Linked DNA regions of Homo sapiens. The protein of the gene in region 1 interacts with the protein of each later gene in a biochemical or structural test. Each region holds a gene or a part of one and is shown on either strand. Other genes may lie near its edges. The genes, in order: STK3, EIF4EBP1 and MOB4.

The links.
Region 2: of the proteins of STK3 (region 1) and EIF4EBP1, one has a biochemical effect on the other in vitro, tested with the Homo sapiens proteins (one study listed by BioGRID).
Region 3: of the proteins of STK3 (region 1) and MOB4, one has a biochemical effect on the other in vitro, tested with the Homo sapiens proteins (one study listed by BioGRID).

The regions. Positions count from the first base shown.
Region 1 is NC_000008.11:98,821,501-98,831,796, forward strand, and holds the start of STK3 (serine/threonine-protein kinase 3), read right to left. Parts: upstream 4,189-10,296; 5' UTR 4,041-4,188; coding exon 4,015-4,040; intron 1-4,014. UniProt on the Homo sapiens protein: Stress-activated, pro-apoptotic kinase which, following caspase-cleavage, enters the nucleus and induces chromatin condensation followed by internucleosomal DNA fragmentation.
Region 2 is NC_000008.11:38,052,446-38,062,035, reverse strand, and holds the end of EIF4EBP1 (eukaryotic translation initiation factor 4E-binding protein 1), read right to left. Parts: intron 4,956-9,590; coding exon 4,776-4,955; intron 2,133-4,775; coding exon 2,101-2,132; 3' UTR 1,671-2,100; downstream 1-1,670. UniProt on the Homo sapiens protein: Repressor of translation initiation that regulates EIF4E activity by preventing its assembly into the eIF4F complex: hypophosphorylated form competes with EIF4G1/EIF4G3 and strongly binds to EIF4E, leading to repress translation.
Region 3 is NC_000002.12:197,544,794-197,555,051, forward strand, and holds the end of MOB4 (MOB-like protein phocein), read left to right. Parts: intron 1-3,542; coding exon 3,543-3,622; intron 3,623-5,481; coding exon 5,482-5,593; intron 5,594-5,721; coding exon 5,722-5,853; 3' UTR 5,854-8,906; downstream 8,907-10,258. Other genes in the region: HSPE1-MOB4 protein, read left to right, coding at 3,543-3,622, 5,482-5,593, 5,722-5,853.

The DNA.
Region 1 (10,296 bases):
AAAAAAAAAAAAAATTAGGTATGGTGGTGCGTGCTTGTGGTCCCAGCTAATCAGGGAGGCTGAGGTGAGAGGATCACCTGAGCACAGGGAGGTCAAGGCTGCAGTGAGCCATGATTGTGCCACTGCACTCCAGCCAGGGCGATAGAGTAAGACCCAATCTCAAAAAAAAAAAAAAAGTTAAAAAGAAAAAAAAGGACTTCTGAAGACCTCAGTGACAAGTATGTTAACGAAATCTAAGGAATCTAAAAACTACTCTGGTACCTCAAGTTGGTGACATGGGTGACCACATCTATTGCCTATGTTTAACACAAACCTTGTTAAGGAGACCAAATCAATGAATATGAGGGTGAGAGGTGCCTTAAAAATCATCTAGGTCTCTGAGTCATGATTCTTGAACTGGGCTACACACTGGAATCTCCAACTCCCAGAGGAGAAGAAGATGCCCAAAGAAGCAAATTTCAAAGTCAGTGACAAGGCCAGGCCTAATACCCATGCCTAACATTATGTGTTGATATGTGTACATACATACATATATATATACACACACATACATACACACACACACATACACACACACATATATATGTAACATACTAAAAATATAAAGGCATGTATGGGAAGGACAAATATCCAATTCATGTCAGTGATTACCTTTTGGGGGATGGGAAGGGAGTGTAATTGAGAAGAAATACACATGGTGGCTTCAAATGTATTGGTAATATTTTTATTAATATTTCTTAAACTGGATGGTAATACCTAAGTATCTATTAAATTAGGCTCTGTTCTTTTTTCTTTTTGTTTTGTTTTTATTTTTATTTTTGTTTCTTTGAGACAGGGTCTCACTTTGTCATCCAGGATAGAGTGCAGTGGCACAATCATAGCTCACTGAAACCTCCCACTGCTGGGCTCAAGCAATCCTCCCACCTCAGCCCCACAAAGTGCTGAGATTACAAGGCGTGCACCATCGCAGTAGGCCCTCATTATCTTCTGGATATCTAAAATTTTGTAATAAAATAGAATAAAAAGATGGTATATAATCAAATGTATATCACATTAGGAATTCAGTGAAATATCTCAGGCTAGAAAGTACTCAGAAAACATACTTGATGAGGTAGGCTTTGATGGAAGAATAAAACATAGATTATTCTTCAGGCAAAAAGTAACACAAACTTTTCTAAAGGAAAAATGTGAATAAAGGTAAAGCTGGGAGTACCCACAGCCTATAACATAAATAAAGAACAACGGGGGCCAGGCACGGTGGTTCATGCCTGTAATCCCAGCACTTTAGGTGGCCGAGGCAGGTGGATCATCTGAGGTCTGGAGTTGGAGACCAGCCTGGCCAACATGGCGAAACGTTGTCTCTACTAAAACACAAAAATGAGCTGGGCGTGGTGGCGCCCGCCTGTAATCCCAGCCTCTCAGGAGGCTGAGGGACGAGAATCGCTTGAATCAGGATGCCAGAGGTTGCAGTGAGCCGAGATTGTACCCCTCCATCTCAAAACAAAACAAAATAGTTTTGAAAACCACTGGACTAAAGCGTCCAGCTAGAAGGTACTGCTGCAATTCAAAAGTGAGGGTCATAAAACCATGGAATGGGTTTTATGGGGTAGTACTCTTGAGAAAGAAAACAGAAAAAATTAATCCACCAACTTTTTAATAGAAAATTTGATAGGCTATAGTGACAAACTAGATGGGATAATGAAAGAGTAAGACCTACCTGAAAAAATAAAAAATGCCAACTGAGCAGCAGCTTCTAGTCATACTTGAACATCAACGACATCGATAAGGCCATGTAAAAGTCAGCACTAAGGAAGTGTTATTCAAGGCAGAAAAGCAAAATGGCACTTTTATAAGGATTAAGAGCAGAATAAGCAACAGAGACCAGGAGATTACAGAAAAAGAGGACCACTACATCATGGAATGATAAGAAAGAGAGTTTCAAAAAGAGCCATCACTGTATACAACAAGAGGGTGCACAGCCTTTGTAGCCAATCAGATGCAGAATTCTGGCACTTTCTCCACTTGACCAAGTTATTTAACGTCTTTGAGCCTCATATAATAAGGAAAACATAAGTTAACAACTAACACTGTTGAACACATAGGGGCTTCAAATATATTTGTCAAATTTTATTTCTTAAGCTCAGTCGTGATACATAAATATTTATTAAATTAGTCCCCATTATCTTTTGTTGTTTTTGTTTTGTTTTTGTTTTTTTGAGACAGGGTCTCGCTCTGTCCCAAGTGCTTTACATATCACCTCATTTAATCCCCACAATACATTTCACAGATGAAGAAATTAAACTTAGAACTAGCATAATAAGTAGCAGAGCCAGGATTACTATTTCTTAGGATTTAAATAATGTATACTTAAATTTCCTGGCAAACAGGATGACCTCAAAACGAGTAGCTATATTTCATTATTAGGAGATAATAATCAATAGGGGCAAAACTGCCAGTAATTCCTGTCATAGCCTTCCATGTGGCAAACTCTCTCAACATCCTCATCTATAAATTAGGATTAATGCCTATAATCCAATCTACTCCATAGGGTTGCTGTGAGGATTAAATATTATGAATATGAAAATTCTATAAAAAATGTTGAGACATTCAAATATCAGGGATTGCTGTCACATATCTTTCGCCTTCAAAAATGCTTTTGCGGCATTTTTGTTCACTACTTCAAAATAAGACTCTGAATAAGCTAAAAATAAGTCTGTTAAAAGTGCAACCACCACTTTGAAAAGTATAAATCACCACAGAATTGCTGCCTACACCTGCCCCTGACTCCTCCAGGTTCTCTAATGTCTCCACAAGGGCAAGGATTCTCTTACACCTATAATGAAACTCTGATAACTTACAGTACAGCTAATCAATAGAGAGCTGCACTTCAATTCAGAGTTGTTCAAACTGGACTACTGTGTTTTCTCAGAGGTGCTCCTTCCAGTTCTTCCAGAAAAGAAAAAAGTGCCCAATTCTCTTATATTGTATTAAAACGGTGCCCAATGAGTAGAATGCAGGTAACTTACAAAATGCTAGAAAAGAATCTATCAATTGACTTGCTCAAGTGCTCTGACAGCAGGTCCCTTTTGGAAACTCCTTCACGACCCCCCCTTTTTTTCACCTGAACAGATGGCTTCCAGGCTTCAAGGCTCACATGTCTAGTCACACAATTCACAATAGCTCCCAAAGTTCCTAACTTTTCAATTATCCCATGTTCTTGAACACACCTTTCATCTAAAGATCTCTAGCTGTCAAAGCATACGAACTCTTTAATCTTCACAACAGCACTATCTGAGAGATTACTATCCTTATTTTATAAGTTAAAAATGAAAGACTGAGGTTAAATATTTTAGCAACATCAAACAATTCGTTAATTCATTCTTGGGGAGAGAGGAATACATATTATGAACTTCTGTCAATGGACAACCTAGATTTGGCTTCCTAAGATCATTGCAAATATTAGCTCAAACACATCCCACTCTTGTATGCATACATTTCCAACACAGGTGTCAAAGATTAAATATAAACTATTAATAACAGTAAATACCATACCAAAGCAGCACTATTTTTACACGCAAAACTATATTGGGGGAGGGGGTTCTAATTTAAACTTCCCACTGTCTTGCATCCATAAATACTTTTGAACTTGAGGGGGAAGGGGGAAGAACACCTGTCAGAGCAGCACATCCACAATGTTTTACAGACTGTGTAGCTATTAATATTTAATTCCTCCCGCCCCGGGAGGTCAGGCCGCAGGGAGCCCGGCGCTGCCCACCCGACTTTCCACGCGCCAGGCCTGCCGGCCGCAGGGGAGGCTCCGGCTCCCGCTCCCCTCAGGTCCCCTCGCCCGTGGACAGACGCGGCGGGACACTCGGACCCGCCTCCCGACCTCAGCGCGCCCGGCTCGGGGCCCGGCGGGCGGGGAGAGGCTCGCAGCAGGGCCTGGCCTAGCCACCCCCGCCCCGCGGCCGCCGGCGCCGCTTCCCTCCTTCTTCCCGCTCCCCGATTCGTTACCTCTTAGGCGCCGGCGGCTGCTCCATGGCGGCCGGGGACAGAGAGAGGGACCTGGTGGACGGCGAAGGCCGAAAGGAGGAAAGGAGCCGGGGCACCGGCCGGCCGAGCCTAGGGCACCACAGAGGGAAACTCTGGGAACTCGGACCAACTTTCCCGTAACTCCGCGGCGGATCTCCCTCCCGCTTAGGAGCGCGGCTCCTCCCGCCCCGCCCCGCCCCCGGCCGCCCCGCCCCGCCCCCGGCCGCCCCGCCCCGCCCCCGGCCGCCCCGCCCCGCCCCCGGCCGCCCCGCCCCGCCCCCGGCCGCCCCGCCCCGCCCCCGGCCGCCCCGCCCCGCCCCCGGCCGCCCCGCCCCGCCCCCGGCCGCGCCGGCCGCCAGCCTGCGGCGGCGGCCCAGAGAAGGTGGACGGAGCCGGGCACCGCGGCGGGGGGCGGAGCCTGCCGCGGCCTGGGTTGGCGGGCGGGGCCGGTGCCGCGGCGGGTGGGCGGGGCCGGGGACGAAGGCCTGGCTGGCCCCAGAGCCCCGTGACCGGGAAAAGGAGAAGGTTCCGCTAGAGCTAGGGGGCGAGGCCGGAGCCGCTCTAGGCTGGGGAAGGGCAAGTCCCTCTGAGCTGGCCCAGAGCTCCGCCCCTAGCCTGCCCTCACTACGGTTTGCCCTGATCCAATTTGACTCATTTCTTTGGCTTTCCCAACGACACATCCTAACATCGTGTGAATCCGTTTGAAGTATTACTTTCTCACTGCCCACGCTTCCCTCTCTAGTTCTGTTTATAATTATCGGTTATGTTTTCCCCCAGCCATTTGACATGTGTAGGCCACAGTACTAGGGATACTTCTGGAAATTCTTGTTTGATTTTTATTGTGGACAAGCTCCTCGCTACATTTCACAATAATTACATCTAATTACCGAGAAAATAATTCGTACAGTGAGATCTCTCGGTACACCAAATTCAGTTGCACTGGGCCCTTGCAGCTGTCCCATTGGGTAACCTGGCAAGCCTGTCACAAATTATGCTGCCAGGAAGAATACTCAAGAAAAGTTTGTTTCCTCCCCTCTTTGGTCCTCTCCCCCAACCTGATTCCAGCAGCCCTCATCCCATTGTAATCTGACCACTGCATGCATCCATATTGTGGGTATACTTTTAACCTTAAATTCCATATATACCTTTCACATAACAATATACAGCTGCTACATGAGTTTACTTGTTTTTGTCAGAAATTGTCAAGATGGGCCGGGCGCGGTGGCTCACGCCTGTAATCCCAATACTTTGGGAGGCCAAGGCGGGCGGATCACTTGAGCTCAGGAGTTCAAGACCAGCCTGGCCAACATGGTGAAACCTCGTCTCTACTAAAAATACAAAAGTTAGCCGGGCCTGGTGATGCGCCTGTACTCCCAGCTGCTTGGGAGGCTGAGGCAAGAGAATCACTTGAACCCGGGAGGCAGAGGTTGCTTTTAACCTTAAATTCCATATATACCTTTCACATAACAATATACAGCTGCTACATGAGTTTACTTGTTTTTGTCAGAAATTGTCAAGATGGGCCGGGCGCGGTGGCTCACGCCTGTAATCCCAATACTTTGGGAGGCCAAGGCGGGCGGATCACTTGAGCTCAGGAGTTCAAGACCAGCCTGGCCAACATGGTGAAACCTCGTCTCTACTAAAAATACAAAAGTTAGCCGGGCCTGGTGATGCGCCTGTACTCCCAGCTGCTTGGGAGGCTGAGGCAAGAGAATCACTTGAACCCGGGAGGCAGAGGTTGCAGTGATCCGAGATCGCGCCACTGCACTCCAGCCTGGGTGACAGAGCAGACCTTGTCTCAAAAAAGAAAAAGAAAGAAAGAAATTGTCAAGATGTAGAGTTACATAGAATTTTCTTGGAGGTTAGAACAATAAATATGAAGAGAATGTTAAATAAAGGAAACCAATTTGAAGAGAATGTTGAATAATGTGAATATTTGCCCAAATTAAACTTGACTATTAGCAGCTAATACAAGTTTAGTTTAGTCCTCTTTTTGCATTATTTTAAGTTTCACTATGTAATAAACTTACACTATTTTCAAACCATTATATTCTTTCCTAAATTTAGTTATTTTAAGACCATTCATTTTTGAAACTCTAATTCTGAGAACAAGAAAAAGGGTTTTTTTTGTTTTGTTTTTTTGAGACAGGTTCTCACTGTTCCCCAGGCTGGAGTGCAGTGGTGTGATCATGCCTCACTGCAGCCTCAACCTCCCGGGCTCAAGCAATCTTCCCACCTCTGCCTCCCAAGTAGCTAGGACTACAATGCCCGGCTACAAAATTTTATACTTGTTTGCATTTATTAAAGATCCACAGTCTGACTGTTCAGAAATAACAGGACAACAACAATTTTAAAACCTAAATATTTAAAATGTTAAAGCTGAGAAGAATCTTTGAAATTACTCCACTCTAACCCCCCCAACTCTCATCTTCACTTCCATGCCATACTCCCAGCTTTTTTTTTTTTTCTTTCACTCTTGTTGCCCAGGCTTGAGTGCAATGCCGTGATCTCAGGTCACTGCAACCTCTGCCTCCCTGGTTCAAGAGATTATCCTGCCTCAGCCTCCCTAATAGCTGGGATTACAGGCACCCGCCACCACGCCCAGCTAATTTTTCGTGTTTTTAGTAGAGACAGGGTTTCACTATGTTGGCCAAGCTGGTCTTGAACTCGTGACCTCGGGCAATCCACCCACCTCAGCCACCCAAAGTGCTGTGATTACAGGCATGAGCCACTATGCCAGGCTCACTCCCATCTTTTTGTGTTTCATCAGAGAAACCTCTTGAGGAAGGCTGGGCGAGGTGGCTCACACCTTCAACCCCAACACTTTGGGAATCCAAGGCAGGCAGATAGCTTGAGCCCATGAGTTCGAGACCAGCCTGGGAAACATGGTGAAACCCATCTCTACAAAAAAAAAAAAAAAAAAAAAAAAAAAACAAAAGAAATAGCTGGGCATGGTGGCATGCACCTGTAGTCCCAACTACTAGGCTTCAGTGAGCCATGATCAAGCCACTGCACTCCAGCCTGAGCAATAGAGTGAGACCCTGTTTCAAAAGAAAGAAAAGAAAGAAAGAAAGAGAGAGAGAGGGAGGGAGGGAGGAAGGAAGGAAAGAGAGAAAGAAAGAAAGAAAATAAATGATCCCTGAATTGTTTTACCAACAGCAATCTCCAGGGAGCCTTTCCCAGTCAAACCACCAGCATCATCACCCACTATCTGTCACATTTAAGTTGTGATAGAGATACTGTCTTGTATATATGTCCGTAGTACCCTGTGTTGGCTTTTGTATGAAACTTGTCACACTATATTGAAGTTCTGTTTATTAGGCTGTCATCCCAACCCAACTATGAGTTGATTGAAAGTTGAGCCATATCTTTATTCTCTATACCTTGCATAGCAAGTGCCTGATAAATCGTAAGGGCACTGGGCTGGATAGCATCCTTTTGGTCCTGCAGATTCATTCTCCATCCTTTTCCATCTGCTCTCTGCTCTGAGAGCTAATATGTATGGCTGACATCAGAAGCCCCTTGGCTTATGGTTGGGTCTGATGATAGACCCAGCAAGAGATCATCTGAGGGAGAAAGGAGGGTGAGGTCAGACTATTGGATGCCCTGGTTCCCTTCCTGTGAGGTGACCTAGGGCTAGCTGTGTTCCAGAGAATCATGGCTCTTTGCAAGGCAAACTACTCTACCTAATTATTCCTCCTTCCCCTTGACCCTTTGGGCCTGAGTATCATGGCTGCTCTGCTATTCCCTGGGTTTCTTCTCTATGTCCTATGTTCCCCTAACCTCAATCCTCAACTGATGCTTTGTAAATTAAACTCTTTTCAATTGACACTAATTTGATTGCACCTTCTAAAGGGCTTATGATCTTGACTGATACACCCATAAAGAATTGTGGAAGTAGGAGGAATACTATCAGAAAATAAATTTCTGAGGTCTTTCCTCAACTTGAAAAGGGAGAAGACTAATAATTATCATACGACTCCAATAGGATCAGACACTAGGCCTCCATTTTCTCATTAAACCCTGAAAACAACCTTGTGAAGTAGTTATTTCCATTTTATAGGTGAGAAAACTGAGGTTCAAAAGTGTGAAAGGAGTTACCCTAGGATAAACAGAATGTCTGTGTTCTAATCCAGGCCTTTAAGACTCCAAAGCTGGAACTTATTCCACTGTAGATCAGTCAACAAATATTTATTGAGCACTTAAGTATGCCAGGCACTGTTCTAGGTGCTGGATATTCATCAGTAAAGAAAAGAGACAAATAGACAAAAATCCCTGCCTTCAGGGGATTTACATTCTGGTTGGGGAAACATAATAAGATAAAAAAGTACCTAATGGGTCATGTTAGAGATTGAAAACTGGTAAGGAAGAAAAGTGAAATGGAAAAAGGGAATATAAAGTGGAGGGGAAGAGGCCGGACGTGGTGGCTCATGCCTATAATCCCAGCACTTTGGGAGGCCAAGGTGGGCGGATCACTTGAGGTCAGCAGTTTGAGACCAGCTTGGCCAACATGGTGAAACCCCGTCTCTACTAAAAAAATACAAAAATTAGCTGGGTGTGGTGGTGGGCACCTGTAGTCCCAGCTACTCAGGAGGTCAAGGCAGGAGAATGCGTGAACCTGGGAGGCAGAGGTTGCAGTGAGCCAAGATTGCGCCACTGCACCCCAGCCTGGACAACAGAGCAAAACTCTGCCTCAAAAAAATAAAAAGTAAATAAAAATAAAGTGGAGGGGAAGGGATGAAATTCAGGTAGGATGGCAAAGGAAGGCCTCAACGAGAGAGTGACTAAGGAAGTGGAGGCCAGAGCCATGCAGATAGCATGAATGTGAGGCCAAGGGAATGTTAGAATGTGAGGCCAAGGGAACAATAAGTGCTAAGGCCCAGAGGCAGGACTGTGCCTGGTGTGTTGTGTGTTACTCAATAAAGGAATTGTTTTTCTCCTGAATTACTTAGAAGAAGAAAAAAAAATGCTTCAAGCTTCTGTTTTACTTTGTCTGTTGAAAACCAACCTGAAGATTCCAGGAAGAAAGCATAGAAGTCACCATTCAAACTGCAAATAAGAGGCAGCAGCATTCATGAACAAAGGAAAGCTGCAGGAACATTTGAGATACAGGTAAGGGTCACCCAGCTTCACTTAACTGTGAAAGTAAGGTAATCGGCCAGGCGCGGTGGCTCACGCCTGTAATCCCAGCACCTTGGGAGGCCGAGGCGGGCAGATCACGAGGTCAGGAGATCGAGACCATCCTGGCTAACAAGGTGAAACCCCATTTCTACTAAAAATACAAAAAATTAGCCAGGCGTGGTGGTGGGCACCTGTACTCCCAGCTACTCGGGAGGCTGAGGCAGGAGAATGGCGTGAACCCGGGAGGCGAAGCTTGCAGTGAGCCGAGATAGTGCCACTGCACTCCAGCCTGGGCGACAGAGCAAGACTCTGTCTCAAAAAAAAAAAAAAAAAAAAAAGGAAAGTAAGGTAATCTGTTTCTGCTTCCAACAGCTCCATTTGGAATCGAGATTAAATATACACTTTAATTATACTAGCAAACAGCTGATTACAATTCTCAGTTGAGTGCTCTAAGAGAAATGGGAAAGAAATCTGCAATTTGAGATCCAGTGCCTTTGAATAACAAAAAGCATACGTTCTTTGTAACTGAATACGTACACCACCATGTTTAAAATATTAAGATAGAAACATATTAAGGTAAAAATTTTTCCTTGTCATACTAGTTGCAGCTATTCATTGAAACTACAACTTTGTATTTCTCTTAGGCTGGAGTGTAGTGACACAATCAAAGCCCACTACAACCTTGAACTCCTAGGCTCAAGGAATCCTCCTGCCTCAGCCTCCCAAGTAGCCGGGACTATAGGCATCCACCACCATGCCCAGCTAAGTTTACTTTTGAGTTTTGTAGAAACAGAGGTCTCACTATGTTACCCAGACTGGTCTCGAACTCCTGGTCTCAAGCAATCCTCCCACCTTAGCCTCCCATAGTGCTGGGATTATAGGTATGAGCCGCCATGGCCAGCCTCATTTTTATATTTGTTGGAAAAATAATATCAATTAACAAATGTTAATTAATCTTTTCTGCTATAATAAGGAACAGTTTGGGGAAGAGAGAAATCACTAATCAAATATATTGTGTAGGTTTTTATTTGCAGGAAAATTTGGAAATGTTTTCCTTCAAGAGGTAACTTTACAAAACATTTTCTCTTGATCTGTTTCTCTTTTCTAACTTAGTTTTATAGTTAGTTTGAAACTAGCATGTTG
Region 2 (9,590 bases), about 61 Mb from region 1:
ATTGCTTCTCAGCAAAGATCTCTGCCTAGTTACCATTCAAGACCTTCAGAAACCTCACCCTTCTTTGGCCATTTGTTAAAGTCATTCTCACCCATACAAACTGCCTGCTCTGACCAAAGCAGGCTACTATGTCTCTTCCCTGAACACCCCAGCTCCCCAAGACCATCTGAGCTTGGCAACACTGGGCCCCTGCCTCCCCCAACCCACTCATTCCCAGGGTCCAGCTGTAGCATCACCTCCATGAAGCCTCTACTCTGTCACTGGAGTGCAGTGGCACAATCGTGGCTCACCACAGCTTTGAACTCCTGGGCTCAAGTGTTCCTCCCACCTCAGCCTCCTGAGTGGCTAGGACCACAGGTGTGCACCACCATGTCTGGCTACTTAAAAAATTTTCTGTAGAGACGGGGTCTTACTGCGTTGCCCAGACTGGTCTCCCACTCCTGGCCTCAATCAATCCTCCCACCTCAGCCTCCCAAAATCCTGGGATTACAGGCTTGAACCACTGTGCCCAGCCTATGCTACCTTTACTTTCGGGCAAATCTTACATTTCAATGAAATTTTCAAGGCAGAGAGCTTGTCTGTGTTTGTGCCACACATGACAGCTCACACAAAGCGATCAATTGGCAAAGGTCGAGTGCCCGCAGATCAGATGCCACACTGGCCAAGGCAGGGGCTCTTCCCTTTGACTCTTGCATGGAATGGGCCCTGACGGGAAGGTGCCAAACTCGACAGGCTTGGGGTTGAGAGAAGGGGGAGAAAGCACAGAAGCGAGGCAGCTGCCTTGCTACTGAAAAACAAGAGATCAAGAATACCAGGGTATGGGCTGGGCGTGGTGGCTCACATCTGTCATCCCAACAATTTGGAACGCTGAGGTGGGAGGATCACTTGAGACCAGGAGTTCAAGACCAGCCTGGGCAACATAGCAAGACCTTATCTCTACTCACAAAAAACTTAGCCAGGTGGTGGTGTGAACTTGTAGTCCCAGCTACTCAGGAGGCTGAAGCAGGAGGATTGCTTGAACCTAGGAGTTTGAGGCTGCAGTGAGCTAGGACTGTGCCACTGCACTCCAGCCTGGGAGACAGAGCAAGACTTCGTCTCGGAAAAAAAAAAAAAAAAGAGTAGCAGGACTCAAATCCAGTCCCATGTGCCATTCAGCAGCTGCACGATTTTACCTGTTCTTGTGCCAGTCTTCTCAGCTGTAAAGTGAGGATAACAGTTGTTCTACTTACCCACAGGATCAGAGTCAGAATCAAATAAGGACAGGCCCACGCTTTAGAAGCACTGTACAAGGCTGGGCACGGTGGCTTACACCTGTAATCCCAGCACTTTGGGAGGCCAAGGCGGGTGGATCACCTGAGGTCAAGAGTTCGAGACCAGCCTGGCCAACATGGTGAAACCCTGTCTCTACAAAAATACAAAAAAATACTAGCTGGGCATGGTGGCGGGCACCTGTAATCCCAGCTACTCGGGAGGCTGAGGCAGGAGAATTGCTTGAACCCAGGAGGTGGAGGTTGCAATCAGCTGAGATTGCGCCATTGCACTCCAGCCTGGGCCACAAGAGTGAAACTCCGTCTCAAAAAAAAAAAAAAAAAAAAAGCAGCAGCACTGTACAGATAGCAGCTGGTGTTAGTTACCAAACAGAGTTGAAAAAAGCTCAGACGGGGCCCAACTCTTGGCCCTAGGGCGAAGGTGGCTTTTATTTCCTCTCTTGGGGAAGGAGGGGGAGGGAGCTTTCCCAAGCACATCAACCTAAGGAAGGGGTGGTTGCGCCCCCAGCAGCGAGGGGCTGGAACTGCTGATCATTCGGAAGGAAGGGTTCGTTCTTGTCCACTTCCTGGCCCTTGGCTGCAGGGTGTGCTGGCAGGGGTCACTCCCCTTGGGGTGGCAGCTCCTGCATCAGTGGAGGCACAAGGAGGTATCTGCTGGTGTTCACGAAGAGGAGGGGGCAGGTGCCCTGAGTGAGGGAGAAAGGGCTGGGGTGTCCGACCCCACGCCAACGCCTGCCCAGTATGATCACTTTCATAAGGCCTGGCTGGTGGGACTCCTCCCAGGAAGGCCCTGAGGGGCCCCTTGGTAGTGCTCCACACGATGGCTGGTGCTTTAAATGTCCATCTCAAACTGTGACTCTTCACCTGGGGAGAGAGGGGACAGAGGGCCAGGTCAACAATGGGTGAATGCTTGGTATATGAGGCCATTCTTTCATTGCTATAAAGAAATACCTGAGGTTGGGTAATTTATAAAGAAAATAAGTTTTTTTTTGTTTTTTTGTTTTTTTTTTTTGAGATGGAGTCTCACTCTGTCTCCGAGGCTGGAGTGCAGTGGCCCAATTTCGGCTCACTGCAACCTCCGCCTCCTGGGTTCAAGCGATTCTCCTACCTAAGCCTCCCAAAAGAGTAGCTGGGATTATAGGCACCCACCACCACACCCAGCTAATTTTTGTATTTTTAGTAGACCCGGGGTTTTGCCATGTTGGCCAGGCTGGTCTCGAACTCCTGATCTCAGATGATCCACCCTCCTCAGCCTCCCAAAGTGCTGGGATTACAGGTGCGAGCCACCGTGCCCAGCCAAGAAAAGAGGTTTAACTGGCTCGCGGTTCTGCAGGCTGTACAAGCATGACGCCGGCCTCAGCTTGGCTTCTGGGGAGGCCTCAGGGGGCTTTTCGTCATGGTGGAAAGCAAAGCGGGAGCAGGCATGTCACATGGAGGAAGCAGGAGCAAGAGAGAGGGTGGAGTGGCGCTCCCACACTTTACAACAACCAGATCTCGAGAGAACTCATTCACTATCATGAGGACAGCACCAAGCTGTGAGGGATCTGTCCCCACGACCCAAACACCTCCCACCAGGCCCTACCTCCAACACTGGGGATTACAATTTAACATGAGATTTGGGCAGGGACAAATATCCAGACTATATCATTTCGTCTGACTCTTGTTGTTTTTGCTTTTTTCTTTAGAGACAGGGTCTCACTCTCTTGGCCAGGCTGGCGTGCAGTTACGCAATCATAGCTCACTGCAGCCTTGACCTCCTGGGCTCAAATGATCCTCTGGCCTCAGCCTCCCAAGTAGTTGGGATTACAGGCATGCACCACCATGCCTGGCTAATTTTAAAATTTTATGTAGAGATGGGGTCTTGCATTGTTGCCCAGGCTGGTATTGAACTTCTGGCCTCAAGTATTCATCCTGCCTCAGCCTCCCAGAGTGCTGGGATTTCAGGCATGAGCCACTGTGCCTGGCCACCAGCTGATGTTTTTAGGGGCCAGGGACAGCCCCTATTTTTTGAAAGTAGATAACTTGTTTAGTTTCACAGGCTCACAGCTGGAAGGAAATTAAGCTTGAGATGAATCATGCTGTGAGTCTTGTCTGATTCAGATGAAATTCTGGACTTTGAACTTTTGAGCTAGGACTGCAACGTGTTAAGTCTTTGGGGATATGGGGACCAAATTAATATATGTGTATATGAGAAGGACATGAGTTTGGGGGGTCCAGGGCTGGAATGCTATGGTTTGAAATTCATACAGAAACTTAATCCCCAATGTAACAGTATTAAGAGTTGGGGCCGTTAAGAGGTAATTGGGTCATGAAGGCTCTGTCCTCATGAATGGATTAGCCCATTCCTGGATTAATGGGTTACCACAGGAGTGGGCTAGTTATCACAAGAGTGTTATAAAAAGGCAGCTTGGTTCTCTCTCATGTGCCCCTCTTGCCCTGTGATGCCTTCCGCCATGTTATGATGCAGCAGGAGGCCCTCACCAGAAGCCCAGCAGATGCGGGCACCATGCCCTTGGCCTTCCCAGCCTCTAGAACTGTAAGAAATAAACCATTTTTCTTCATAAATTACCCAGTCTCAGGTATTCAGTTACAGCCATAAAAAAACAGACTAAGACACAGGCAACTATTGTCTGTCTTGTACTGTGAGGTTCCCAAGGTAATTATGAATCATGTCCTGCAGGCCCTGGGGAGATTAATTCTGCTGCTGTTAGCAGAGCCAGCCAAGCTGAGGTCCCTGCTGCTTCCTGTCTGGGCCTGGGGTACGGCCTTCCGGGTGAAGGGTCGGCGGGTTCCAATCTGATTATAGTTGCCCGGAAGTGCTTATGCTGCATCATCTTGCAGCAGAGAACTCCAACACTCTGCCAAGCCAGTCAGGATGCCACAAAGAGTGCATTCACTTACACCACTACCACAGTGGCTGCTCTAATTACTCGGGAGGTGGGGACAGCAGGAAGGACCCAGCTACCAAATGTCAAATCGGCAGAGACAACTGGCTGCATTGTTTCTACCTGCCTTCATGAAGATCCACTAGGGGACCAACAGCCCAACAGGAGGCATCCCGGATGTATTTCTTATCTTGTAGACATATAATTTCCCAAAGGACAAGTACACTGTGTCTTTGATAACTTGTCTCTTGCACCACAAACATCATGGGTGTGTTCCAAGTGGAAATGCTTCAGAGACAATTATACAGAGGCACATGCTTACGAAAGTTGCTGTGTGCAGCCGCTGCCATTTCAAACAAACTCCCCGCTAATTACATGACCCAAAGGTGCCAGATCACCTTTCCTGAGGTGCCTGGGCCCCTTTCAGGGGGAAAGTTGCTACCAATGAAGAGTTCAACCTCCCCACCCCTACTCTCACCCTCTGGGCTCTGAGCTGCTCCTTAGAGGGTAGGGCAGAGTCCCTGTTGTTCCTCCTCCCTGGAATTGCCCCCAGTGGATGGACTCCAGGAGCCTCATACATTCCCTTTCCCAAGGTAGAGCCTGGCCAAGCCCCGACACTCACCGCCCGCCCGCTTATCTTCTGGGCTATTGCGCAGGTGGCTCTGGCTGGCTTCCATGGGGGGCTCATCACTGGAAGGGCTGGTGACCCCCGGAATGGTGGGCAGATCCCTTGGGGGTGTTTTGGTCACAGGTGAGTTCCGACACTCCATCAGGAATTTCCGGTCATAGATGATCCTGGTACCTAGAAGGGAACAGGGAGGTTGGTCAAGCCATCTGCAGCCTCTTGCCTGCCGGTTTTTCCACTTTTTAAAGGCGTGGCTGCAGTAGAGGCAGCAGATTCTCCTGAAAAACCCAGAGGAGGCTGGGTGCGGTGGCTCATGCCCATAATCCCAGCACTTTGGGAGACCAACATGGGTGGATCACCTGAGGTCAGGAGTTCGAGACCAGCCTGGCTAACATGGTGAAACCCCGTCTCTACTAAAAATACAAAAATTAGCCAGCGTGGTGGTGGTAGCCTGTAATCCCAGCTACTCAGGAGGCTGGGGCAGGAGAATCACTTGAACCTGGGAGGCAGAGGTTGCAGTGAGCCGATTGCACCACTGTACACCAGCCTGGGTAACAGAGCGAGACTCCTTTTCATAAAAAAAAAAAAAAAAAAGCCAGAGTAGTGAGGCTTATTTGGGGGCCTGGCTGCCACCCAGAACTCTGCTACCTCCAAACGGCCCCAACTCCCCTTCACATGGAATGATCCAATGGAAGGGGTCTGCAGGCCACCAACTGCACCTGTGTCTTCCCAGAGCTCTGTGCACACTGTGCTCTGTCCCTATAGCCCCTCAGCTCACTCACCCACCTGGGCTTAGTGTTAATTACCCATGACAATCACATACCACGGTGGAAAAAATGCATTTCTAGTCATTATTCAGTCCTGTCCTTACAGCACTCCTGTGGGATACCCAGAATAGCTGCATTTTACAAATGACCAAACAGAAAATACTTGTGATTCAACCAGAGTAGTAAAAATAAGAACTTTTGCCAGGTGTGGTAGCTCACACCTGTAATCTCAGCACTTTGGGAGGCCACCGTGGGAGGACTGCTTGAGCCCAGGAGCTTGAGACTAGCCTGGACAACTTAGAGAGACCTCATCTCTACAAAAATGTTAAAATGAGTCGGGCATGATGGGTACGTGCCTGTAGTCCCAGCTACTCGGGAAGCTGAGACGGGAGGATTGCTTGAGCCCAGGAGGTCCAGGCTGCAGTGAGACCCTATCTCAAAAAGACAGTTCCAAAAAAAAAAGAGAGAAATGCCTGGGCTTTGCGGAGAAGAGCCAGAGGCAGGAGTGAAGGGTGGGCTCTCCTGCTGAGCCCCTCCTTTGTGAGGCCCCCAGTGTGTCCTGCCAGTGTGTCACTGACCTTGGAATTCTACCCCACCATCCCAAGTAGCTGGGATTATAGGTGCGTGCCACCATGCCCAGCTAATTTTTTGTATCTTTAGTAGAGACGGGATTTCACCATGTTGGCCAGGCTGGTCTCAAACTCTTGACCTCGTGATCTGCCTGCCTCGGCCTCCCAAAGTGCTGGGATTACAGGTGTGAGCCACCGTGCCCGGCCCCTTTGTATCTTTTTATAGCTACCTTCTATTTATGGCAAGTGAATCCGGTGTTCCATATATAGTAGTGATAGCAATTCCTTTTAATATACAATAATATAATAATATATTATAGATTCTATAATAAAATAATGTAAATTAAATTCAAAAGCTAAGGTGATATAAAGAAATATTAAATATCTGTACAAGTGGAATGCAAGGTATGGTAATAATTGTGCAGATAAAATATGAATAACCCAAGTTTGGGAATCATGATTTAAGGACTTCAGGAATGCCCTTCCTTAGCAATAACCTTGAAATCTCTCCTTCACTTAGGGGCTATGATGAGTAGCATTCCAACAGCTGAGATTCATTTCTTACACTTTATTTTACTTTTTTGATTTTTAATTTTTATGGATCCATAATAGTTGTACATATTGAGATTCATTTCTTGATGCTCAGCACTGGACTCTGTAAACCCCTGGAAAGGAACCAATTTCCATCTCGGAGTCTGAGTGTGAGTTCCTGAAACGGGGCTCTGTGCTGAGGATGACGTGAGATGCTGAAGGGCAGAGGAATGCAGAGAGATACCTAAAGATAAACTTCACCTGCTGGCTGTGTTCCTCTAGTCTGGCTGTGGCCCCTCCAGGCAGTCACTGGTCTTACTCTCCTGTCCCCTTGCAGGAGAGGCAGTGATACTGAAGCTGACAGCCCTGCTCATTGCCTATGGGACTCCAGCGCACAGCTGTTTCTTAGGAGGAGGGGTGTAAAGAACCAGGGTGCATTTGGGCTCCGTTCCCAGTCAGCTGTGTGACCCTATGCACCTTGCTCCTTGCACCCCCTGTTTTGGGCCTCCATCTCCTCATCTGTAAAATAAAGACCCATGCACCTTCTAGGTCTGAGTGCCTATGAGCCCAGATTACAAATGGAGAGCAGTGGTGCCCTCTCTTTGCAGGGCTGGGGTGACAGTGAGGGGAGGTAAGGGAAGACCAATTTCTAACTCTTTTTTTTAAAAAGTGACCCAGATTTGTTTTGGTTCTAGAGGCCAGATGTGGCACTGCTCCACTCTGCAAGGCTTGGGGTTGTACAATCTCTCCTCCCCAGAGGGGAGGGAAGCCCAGAGACCCCAGGGTCCAGGCAGCGGGGTGGGGACTCAGTGGACAAGTGGCTGGACATCCTGGCTCCAGATGGGACCACTTTTTTTCTGTTGTTTCTTAATCTTTGAGACTCGGCAAGAGTGCCCCCCTTCTTGTTTCCCCCCAACTTTGCTTTTTGTTTGTTTGTTTTGAGATGGAGTCTTGCTCTGTCACCCAGGCTGGAATGCAGTGGCACAATCTTGGCTCACTGCAATCTCTGCCTCCTGGGTTCTAGCAATCCTCCCGCCTCAGCCTCCCCAGTAGCTGGGACAACAGGCATGTGCTATCACGCCCGGCTAATTTTTGTATTTTTTGGTAGAGACAGGGTTTCACCATGTTGGCCAAGCTGGTCTTGAACTCCTGACCTCAAGTGATCCACTGGCCTCAGCCTCCCGAAGTGCTGGGGTTACAGACATGAGCCACACTTTTTTTGTTGTTGTTGGTTTGTTTATCATAGCGTGAAACCTAAGAGTTAAAGATTCAACAGTCTCAAAGAAGCGCCCAGGGGCCAGCAACCATCTGGAGAGCCTCTTTAAAGGTCATCAGCCCCTGGTGACTTTTTAAAAATTGTGGTGAAATACACATAACATTGACCATCTTAAACATTTTCGGTAGGGTGTTGTGCTACCATCACCGCCAATCATCTCCAAAACGTTTTCATCATGTGAAACTGAAACTCTACAACAACTCCCCTTCCCCACTCCCTCTAGGCCCTGGCAAGCAGGGTTCTACTTTCTGTCTCTCTGAATTTGACTACTCTAGGTATCTTATATAGTGAAATCATACAGGATTTGCTTTTTCATGACCGGCTTATTTCACTTAGCATAATGTCCTCAAGGTCCCTCCACACTGTAGCATGTGATAGGATTTCCTTCCTGCTGAAGGCTGAATAATATCCCATTGAGAGTGTGCGCGCATTTTGCTTATCCTTTCCTCTGACTGATGGACACCTGGGTTGCTTCCACTTCTCAGTTATTGTGAATCATGCTGCTATGAACATGGGAATACAAATACTTCTTGAAGATCTTGCTTTCACCAGCCTGGCCAGCATGGTGAAACCCCGTCTCTACCAAAAATACAAAAATTAGCCAGGCGTGGTGGCACACACCTGTAATCCCAGCTACTCTGGACTGAGGCAGGAGAATCGCTTGAACCTGGGAGGCAGAGGCTGCAGTGAGCTGAGATGGCGCCACTGCGCTCCAGTGAGCTGAGATCGCGCCGCTGCCCTCCAGCCTGGGCGACAGAACAAGACCCTGTCTCAAAACAAAACAAAACAAAAAAACAGGCCAGGTACAGTGGCTCATGCTTGTAATCCTAGCACTTTGGGAGGCAGAGGCAGGCAGATCACCTGAGGTCAGGAGTTCAAGACCAGCCTGGTCAACACGGTGAAACCCTGTCTCTACTAAAAATACAAAAATTAGCTGGGCGTGGTGGCACACCCCTGTAATCCCAGCTACTTGGGAGGTTGAAGCAGGAGAATTGTTGAACCTGGGAGGCGGAGGTTGCAGTGAGCCAAGATCATGCCACTACACTCCAGCCTGGGCAACAGAGCAAGCAAGACTCTGTCTCAAAAAAAATTAAATCATTAATTATACTTAAAAGTGAAAGAAAAAGCCTCTGTGCCCTTTGTTCTATGGCTACCACAGTTACTTAAAAATAAGAATCCTAATTTTACCTAATAAAAGCAGAGATTTCAGTTGGGGAGGGGTCTGTGAGGAGTAAACAGCAGCATGCAGAAAGTCAGCCGAAGGCTGGGTGAGGTGGCTCGCACCTGCAATCCCAGCACTTTGGGAGGCTGAGGTGGGAGGATCACTTGAGCCCAGGAGTTTGAGACCAGCCTGGGCAACATTGCAAGACCTTATCTACAATTTTTTTTTTTTTTTTGAGATGGAGTCTCATTCTGTTGCCCAGGCTGGAGTGCAGTGGTGCGATCTCGGCTCACTGTAACCTCTGCCTCCTGGGTTCAAGCAATTCTCCTTGCCTCAGCCTCCCAAGTAGCTGGGATTACAGATGCCTGGCTAATTTTTGTAGTTTCAGTGGAGACAGGGTTTTGCCATGTTGGCCAGGCAGGTCTTGAGTTCCTGACCTCAGGTGATCCGCCTGCCTCGGCCTCCCAAAGTGCTGGGATTACAGGCATGAGCCACTGCACCTGGCCT
Region 3 (10,258 bases), on another chromosome or scaffold:
TATATTTTACTACAATTTTTTAAAATGTTAAGAAAAAAGCATCAAAACCCCAAATGGCATATACTTTCATACCCACTATAATGGCTAAAATAGGAAAGATAGACAATAACAAGTGCTGACGGGGATGTGAAGTGGAACCCCTAAACATTGATGATGGGATTGTAAAATGCTTCAGCTATTTCAAAAAACAGTTTGGAAGTTCCTTAAAATGGTAAGCATAGAGTTGCATACGACCCAGGAATTCCACTCCTTGATATGTAGTTCCCCCAAAATGAAAACATTTATCTGCACAAAGACTTGTACATGAATATTCACAGTCACATTATTTATGATAGCCAAAAAATGGAAACAACCAAATATCCATCAACTGATGAATGGATAAGCAAAATGTGTTGCAGCCATCTCTCAGTAGCCTCAGAGGATTGGTCCCAGGACCCCCATGAATACCAAAACCACAGATACCAAAGTCTCTTATATAAAATGGCATAGTATTTGCATATGACCTATGCACATCCTCCTATATACTTTAAATCATCTCTAGATTACATATAATACTGAATACAATATAAATGCTATATAAATAGTTGTTATACTGTATTTCTTAATTTGTATTATTTTTTATTGTTATGGGGTTTTAAAGTGTAGTTTTGATCTGCAGTTGGTTGAATCTGCAGATGCAAAGTGCTGACTGTATGTGTACAATGGAATAATATTCAGCCATGAAAAGGAATGAAGTCTTAAAGGGAGAAACATACAGTACGGCATTTTGTATATATTAAAAACATTAAAGGCTAAAAAGTTTTGAATTTTAAAAAAAGGAATGAAGTACTGATTCATACTACACCATGGATAAGCCTTGAAAACATAATAGAAGCCAGACACAAAATGCCACTTATTATATTATTTCATTTTAATGAAATATCCAGAATAGGCAAATCCTGTGAAACAGAAATTAGGTTGGTTGTTGCTTAGGGCTGGGGGAAGGAGAGAATGGGAAGTGACTGCTAATTGGTTCAAGGTTTCTTTTTGGGATGCTGAAATGTTCTGAAATTTAGTGGTAATGGTTGCAGAATTTTGTGAATATACTAGAAACTACTGAATTTTTAAGAGTAAATTTTAGTTGTATCAATTATATCTTAAAAGTCAAAAAGTAGCCCATTAATTTTATATCAATTACCTGCTGAAATGGTATTATTTTGGATATAGTGGGTCAAACTACAATATTAAAATTAATTTCACCTCTTTCACGTTACCTTTTTATTTTTTATTTTTTAATTTTTATTTTTGAGACGGAGTCTCACACTCTTGCCCAGGCTGGAGTGCAGTGGCGCGATCTTGGCTCACTGCAAGCTCCGCCTCCCGGGTTCTTGCCATTCTCCTGCCTCAGCCTCCTGAGTAGCTGGGACTACAGGTGCCTGCCACTGCGCACAGCTAATTTTTTGTATTTTTAGTAGAGATGGGGTTTCATCGTGTTAGCCAGGATGGTCTTGATCTCCTGACCTTGTGATCCACCTGCCTCGGCCTCCCAAAATGCTGGAATTATAGGCGTGAGCCACTGCGCCCGGCCTCACGTTATCCCCTTTTTAATGTATCTCTTAGAAAGTTAATTAATTAATTTTTTGAGACGAAATCTTACCCTGTTATCCAGGCTGGAATGCAGTGGCCTGATCTTGGCTTACCTCCCTTGACCTCCTGTGCTCAAGCAATCCTCCTGCCTCAGCCTTCTTGGTAGCTGGGACTACAATCATAGTGCCACCATGTCTGGCTAATTTTTCAAATTTTTTGTAGAGATAGGGGCATTTCCCTGTGTTGCCTAGGCTGGTCTTGAACTCCTGGACTCAAGTGATCTTCCCACTTTGGCCTCCCAAAGTGCTGGAATTACAGGCGTGAGCCACCACATTGGGCCTAGAAAATTTAAAATTAAATATATGGCTTGCATTATACAGTTGACCCTTGAACAACTCCGGGATTGGGATCCCAACCCTCTGTGCAGCTGAAAATCTGAGTATCTAACTTTTGACTCCCCCAAAACTTAATTACTAATAGCCTACTGTTGACTGGAAGCCTTACCGATAACAGTCGATTAACACACATTTTGTATGTTCTGTGTATTATATAGTGTATTGCAATGAAGGAAGCTAGAGAAAATGTTATTCAGAAAATCATAAGGGGCTGGGCGTGATGGCTTATGCCTGTAAACCCAGCACTTTGGGAGGCTGAGATGGGAGGATCGCTTGAGGCCAGGAGTTCGAGACCAGCCTGGTCAACATAGTGAGACCTTCTTTCTTTCTTTTTTTTAAAGAAAATCGTAAGGAAGAGAAAATATATTTGCCATTCATTAAGTGGATCATTGTAAAGGTCTTCCTTGTTGTGTTCATGTCGTTGAGTAGGCTGAGGAGAAAGAGAAAGAAGTGGGGTTGGTCTTGCCGTTGCTGGGAAAATCTGAGCATAAGTGGATTTACGCAGTTCAAACCTGTGTTGTTCAAGGGTCTGCTGTATTTCTGTTGATGATTCTGGTTTAAAGGTTGTAAAACTGTCTCATGGTATACCCAAATGACAAATATGAGAAATACAGTTACTTGGGATATTTGCTTTTGACCAACTCATCTGTGGTCATATATCTGGAGAAAGGTAGTTTTTTTCAATAAATATTGCTCATGGTACTGTTTTTGGCAAGGAGTCCACTAATCAGAAATTCCTGTGGATATATTGTTAGAAAAATACTTCTTTTTTATTAGGTAATTTTTTAGTGCCACGGCACTAAGCCATATTTAGTAGTTACTAAACCGTATTTCTAAGTGACAGCTTCAGTCTCAAACTTGAAAAATAACCTAATTACTGGGTAGAGTCTTTGAGCTACAGTCATTGTTACTCCTTCCTCTAGTTGTTTTTTCCTTCTGGTTGACTCCCTGGTTTGTTTCTAGACTGCTTTCCCCTTGATGTTGCTCCCTGTCTGCCCTCAGGAGGACTGGATGAGGACAATTACTTTGCAGTTTTATTTTTCCTTTAATAAATTTACTGAGTTGCCATGAGACAGTGTTTCATTGTTTCTTTTTTTCATTGTTTCTGATAAATGGAACAGAATAAGTCAGATTTATTAAAATATAAGGAAACTTTGATATTTCATGTTAAAATTCAAAGGTGATCTGGGAGAAAGTTCTTTAGAGGGCTGCTAGATTGATAATAGAGTGCTAGGGACATAATAAGGAATATTGTTTAGGATATAAGAAGGCATCCCTGGAGATACCAGAGATAAATCAGGATTCTTCTTGTCTGTAATTGTTGTTTTCTTGTAGGTACGATGTTGGGAATAAAAATGGGAGACTGGTTTATGTATCATCTAGAATTGTGATATGGTTCAAGGGGATAATAAACCTTACTTATTAATATAACATTATATTTTACAAGCATTCGGAAATTGTAAGGAACTTTTTTCTTAGAACATGCTCATGTCTTTGGAATAAGGTATACCCATATAATGAATATATCTAACTTAAGAGAGAGCTCTTTGTTGATGCATTTCTATATTCTTTCTTTTGTAGTGTCCTGCTATAGACTATACTAGACACACACTTGATGGTGCTGCATGTCTTCTGAATAGCAATAAATATTTTCCCAGCAGGTAATCGAAACTTTTAAACATAGTGTTAAACATTTTAGAGTTAATTTATAAGATTGGTATTTTAGGGGGGAGGGGGGAGGGATAGTATTAGGAGCTATACCTAATGCTAAATGATGAGTTAATGGGTGCAGCACACCAACATGGCACATGTATACATATGTTACAAACCTGCACGTTGTGCACATGTACCCTAAAACTTAAAGTATAAATAATAATAAAATAAAAGATTAGTATTTTAAAAGTAAAATTAGGTTGCTCGTTAATGCATTTTTGTATTTTTTTTTTTAGCTGTTGTATTTTGGCTTGTTTATTCAAGTTTTGAAATTAGGACTGTGGTTAAACAGCAGAACTTGGCTGTCAAAGCTCAAGGCCAGTTCAGTCTAAGGCTAGTACCTGTTCATATATGTCATTCTGCAGAGCTCTCCCTCTCATGCTTTAGAGTTGGGATATGTATATACTTGCTCACTTGAATCTCTATGTTAGTTAGACTCGACCTCCCTTTATGTAGTATGCCTAAAGAGCAGACTTTCTGGCTGGGCGCAGTGGCTCACGGATGTAATCCCAGCACTTTGGGAGGCCGAGGCGTGCGGATCACCTGAGATTGGGAGTTCGAGACCAGCCTGAACAACATGTAGAAACTCCTTCTCTACTAAAAATACAAAATGATCTGGGCATGGTGACGAGTACCTGTAATCCCAGCCACTTGGGAGGCTGAGGCAGGAGAATCGCTTGAACCCAGGAGGCAGAGGTTGTGGTGAGCCGAGATCGCGCCATTGCACTCCGGCCTGGGCAACAAGAGCGAAACTGTCTCAAAAAAAAAAGAGCAGACTTTCTTATTTGTTTTTGAAGGATTCCTTATCCTTGCTCATTGATTTTTAAGATCTGAGAAGTCTGTACATGTAATATATTATCGGTGAAGTTTGTGACTGCCTTTTATTTTATTAAGGTATTTGTTACCAGGTGGATAGATTTGGAGATTTCCCCCACCAAATATGATTAGCTTCAAAGAGCTCATATAAAATATGTTAAGAAAAATACTGACTTTTGACCTTAATATTCTGTGTATACATATTTTAAAAAAGGATATCAGAAATATGCAGAAAATTTCAATTTTAAAAAAACAATTTTAATTTCTCTCTCTCTGTTTTTCTTTTTCTATATGGAGTCTTGCTCAACCAGGCTGGAGTGCAGTGGCGCAATCTCAGCTCACTGCAACCTCTGCCTCCTGGGTTCAAGCGTTTCTCCTGCCTCAGCCTCATGAGTAGCTGGGATTACAAGTGCCTGCCACCACGCCTGGCTGATTTTTGTATTTTCTAGTAGAGACGGGGTTTCACCATGTTGGCCAGGCTGGTTTCGAACTCCTGACCTCAGATGATCCACCTGCCTTGGCCTCCCAAAGTGCTGGGATTACAGGCGTGAGCCACCACACCTGGCCTTAATTTCTAAAAAAAAAAAAAAAAAAAAGAAAAGAAAAGGAAAGAATAACCTAGTTCTGTAAAATAAAACAATAATTCCTTTCAGGAGTTTTCAATCGCCTCTAGTGGACAATGTATTAATGTTGGAAATAGATGTTATAGTAAATTTTGAAATGTCAGGGATTTATTCTAACTGCATTAAACTTTTACAAAGTTTCAAAACTATAATGCTGAATTTAAGTTAGGCCCTGTGATTAGGTAGAAAGAACACTGGCCTAGAACTGAGGAGCAGGGGCTCCAGGCATTTACTCGCAGTGTGACCTTGGAGTAGTCGCTTATTTTCCCTAGGTGTCAGTTTCTACACTTGTAAGCGAGAAATTGGACTATATTGTTCCTAAGATTCTATCCAGTTCTAAGAATCTATGGTTTCTTTTCTACTTCTAGGGTTAGCATAAAGGAATCATCTGTAGCGAAACTAGGATCAGTATGCCGTAGGATTTACAGAATATTTTCACATGCTTATTTTCATCATCGGCAGATATTTGATGAATATGAAGTAAGTATATTTCACTGATTATCTTGATGCATTCTTATCAGTGTAACAGTAATATATATTGATGTTATTTCTAGTCTTTTAGTTTGGGATAGTGAATTAAAATAACATTTTTGTCTTCCTCTCTACAGAATGAAACATTTTTGTGTCATCGGTTTACTAAGTTTGTGATGAAATACAATTTGATGTCCAAGGATAACCTGATTGTACCAATTTTAGAAGAGGAAGTACAGAATTCAGTTTCTGGGGAAAGTGAAGCATGAAGGGAATCATAGGAAAAATGTACTGATCATATAATTAACATTATGTACTGTATATATCATTTTAGACACATCAATCATGTATCCATATTATAGCTTCTTTGTTTAGTATAGGTTTTTGTATGCTGGGTTTGCCTTTTAAAATGGGAAATACTTTTTAAGTTATTCATAAGCTGTATATTCACCAGTGTGGCACTCATGGTTTTTAAATAAGATTAGTATTATCTGTTTATAATGCCTGTTAATAAAAGAATTTACAGTTTGGTAAAATTGCTGCTAAACAATCATTGGATCACAATCCTCATCAGACAAACCCATCTGTAAAAAAAATGAGGGAGAGCTTGAGGTTTCACACAAGCCATTTACTAAAGAGGTAGAAATGTTTTCTATTGGTTTTACCTTGAGTTTAGATATCCTAAAAAATTCTGTAGTACGTAGTTTTGTCTTACCTGTTAACTTTCCCCAATTGAGATAAAAGTGTTTTAAAATTCTGTTTATAGTTTTTGATATGCATATATAATTATGTGTATATCTAAATACAAATGCAAATGAAGCATTAGTAATACTTAAATAATTTTACTGTGCTACATAAAGTATAACATACTTGGAAAGGATTTACCGTTCTGCAACAACGGACTGGTACATACAGGATGATCACAATGGTAAGGCACATAAATTATTTTCCCACTGGAAACCTGCCCTGTCCACCCCTTCTCATTTCCCTTAACCTTATCTTCAAACTACTTTAGCTGAGAAGCTTTTCACCAGACTGAGTTAGTGGTGGCTTATACCTATTTATATTTGTATTAATTGCTTACAGATTATACCTCATATTAGCAATTACATTACACTACAAGAAAATGTATTTGCATAGGCTCTTGCTTATCTTTGTTTTGCAAAATTGTTCTACTTAGAAAACAGTCCTTAAAATAGTTTGACTCTTCCTGTTAGTAATATATTAATCTTTCATTTAACCAGCTAGGCAGCATTAAATAGAATTGAAGAAATACCATAGTATTTATTTTACACCCCCTCTCCCACGAAGTTTATGTTTGGATTACATGCACGTGTGAGATTATTTGCAATAATTCATAGGTTCCAAGGGTGTTGATGAATAGTCATACATTTTTTTGGACTTTGTTATAATTCATTGTGGTAAGAATGATTGAAATGCAGATTTAACAATCTTATAATCTATTGAATGCCATTTTTGATAAAGCACTGGAGGTCTTATTGCCAAACTGATTGTAATGAGGCAGTAAGGGTGAAAACATTGTACATGTTGTGAAGAAAGTATTTAAATCCAACTTTTGAACAGATTTAACAAACATGAGGAACTTTTTTATTTAGAAGGATAATTTTGAAGATGAAAATGTATTCATCTTAATTGTTTTTTCAAATTTAAGGGAATAATTTATACCATCTTTTCAGACAAGAATGTACAGCAAAAATAAGGGGAACAGTAGTATACTGAGAGTGTGTGTATGTATAGTGTATGCCTTTCCAAGCTTGCCAGTCTTTTTGGCTTTGAACACTGCCCATCAGCTACAGTCATTACTGTTCCCCAACCCACAACTATCTTTTAAGAAGTCTTAGTTCACAGTGAAAGGAATGATGACTTTGAAATTATGGATTTATATTAATGGCACTATAAACCAATGGTAATGGTAATTTTTAAACTTGCTAAATATTGAGAAACTAAACTACTAAGTTAATAAATTATATATAGCAGTGTAGCTGTTCTCTCTAGATGGTGTCTCACAATGGATTTCTGTTGCTTGACTATTTTCTTAGTGAATATTTATACTAAGGTAGTGACTGAGATTTGGTGATCTGGCTGAGTATTTTGAAACACATTTTGAATAATATGGCTTAGTGTTAACGGGGACTTAAATATGATTTTTTTTTCTTACTCATTTCACCTTCCCTGTACTGTATGTTTGGAATTGATCATAAAACATCTCCAAAAGAAAATAATCAGTTTGTAGTCTTGCTTTTGTATTCATGTTGATAATCTTACTAATTGTGAAGTTGATTCACTACTATACTAGGTAAGACCTAAGTGAAACAGTTCCTGTTTTTCCTTAATACTGTTTTCAGAATTTTGAAAATGTACTTATATATACATAAATACTACTAAAAAATTAATGAGCCTGGCAAACCATTGATTTATAAAAGTAAGTGTTCTAAGAGGGGAACAAGACAGTTCTGTGTGATAAGGAAGTTAGGCTCCACTTTTTGTTTGAATTACCCTATGTATATCCGAAGGTAAACTTAGGCTTTTCTTTCCAAAAGATCGTATAGTCAATTCATTCTTTTTCTCCTATCACATCTGGGAAAGTAGCTAACTTTTAACTATTTATGTTCCCATAAGTAACCCTTCTTTTGTGTGTATACATTTCCTTTTCTCTGACTTGAGATGTCAAATTTGGATTTCTAGAACAGTTTCTCAGTTAAATTCTTGATGACTTAACAACTTTTACTATCAGAATACAATTAGAAATCCTTGGTCAGGCACAGGGGCTCACGCCTGTAATCCCAGCACTTTGGGAAGCCAAGGCAGACAGATCACCTGAGGTCAGGAGTTCGAGACCAGCCTGACCAACATGGAGAAACCCTGTCTCTACTAAAAATACAAAAATTAGCCGGGCGTGGTGCTACTCGTGAGGCTGAGGCAGGAGAATCGCTTGAACCCGGGAGGTGGAGGTTGCGGTGAGCTGAGATCGTGCCATTGCACTCCAGCCTGGGTAACGAGCAAAACTCCGTCTCAAAAACTCCGTCTCAAAAAAAAAAAATCCTTGATTACATTGTTAGTAAGGACTGTGTTACGATTATAAACACATTTATTGGTTGATGTCAAATTCACTGTAATAGTAGAACTAAGTTTTTTATGTGAGTACTTTGCCCTACTGTCTATATGATGACATCTTTTTTGAGCAGCTAAATTTTAAATTGTATATACTTTATTTTGTGAATCCTTGTTGAATGTGCTAAAGGTTTCTTTGTGTAGTTCTTCCATGCTATGCGAATATTTTAGTAAAAGTAGTTGATTTTTATTTCTTCAAGCATCTCATTGTTAACAGACAATACATATGGACCAGATGTAGTGGCTCACGTCTGTAATCCCAGCCCTTTGGAGGCCAAGGTGGGCAGATCATTTGAGGCCAGGAGTTCAAGACCAGCCTGGCCAACATGGTGAAACCCCATCTCTACTAAAAAAATACAAAAATTAGCCAGGTGTGGTGATGCATGCCTGTAATCCCATCTACATGGGAGGCTGAGGCAGAAGAATAGCTTGAACCTGGGAGGTGGAGGTTGCAGTGAGCCGAGATTGCACCACTGCACTCCAGCCTGGGCGACAGAGTAAGACTCCGTCTCAAAAAAAAAAAAAAACGTATTTGTGCAATATGCTTAGCAGTTTATTTGAGATGATAAGAACATTCAAATCTGTTTTCCTGAAAAAATATGCATTATTAGTATAGAGTACACTATGAAACCGGAAAGCTACCAAGTGAATCCTCTAGAGGGTTAGATTACCTATCTAATAATAGGTTCATTGTGGAGCCTTACTCTTCATTTGTATGACTTTTCTGCTACTTTTTTTTTTTTAGGCGGAGTCTTGTTCTGTCACTCAGGCTGGAGTATAGTGGCGCAGTCTCGGCTCATTGCAACCTCTGCCTCCTGGGTTCAAGTGATTCTCCTGCCTCAGGCTCCTGAGTAGCTGGGACTATAGGTGTGCATCACCACGCCCGGCTAATTTTTGTATTTTTAGTAGAGATGGGGTTTCATCATACTGGTCAGGCTGGTCTTGAACTCTGACCTCAAGTGATCAGCCTGGCTCGACCTCCCAAAGTAGTGGGATTACAGGGGTGAGCCACAGTACCCGGCCTACTTTTTTATAGTACACAAAGCTTCATATCAAGTGTGAGCACCTAATGTAATTAAGCAAAGAGAATACTAAATTTTCGTATTAACCTAAATTTGTAAACGATAAAAACATTGGCCGGGCGTGGTGGCTCATGCCTGTAATCCCAGCACTTTGGGAGGTCAAAGCCAGTGGATCACCTGAGGTCAGGAGTTCGAGACCAGCCTGACTAACAAAATGAAACCCTGTCTCTACTAAAAATACAAAAACTAGCTGGGTGTGGTGATACGCACTTATAAACCCAGCTACTTGGGAGGCTGAGGTACAAGAATCTCTTGAACCTGGGAGGTGGAGGTTGCAATGAGCTGAGATTGTGCCACCGCACTCCAGCCTGGATGAGAGAGCAAGACTCCATCTCAAAAAAAAAAAAAAAAGAAAAGAAAAAATTGACACCGTGAACTTAAATCCATGAAGTATGTCAATTAAGTGATGATTCTAGGATTAACTGTGACATCAATATTTAAAACTAGTGAACTGTTCATT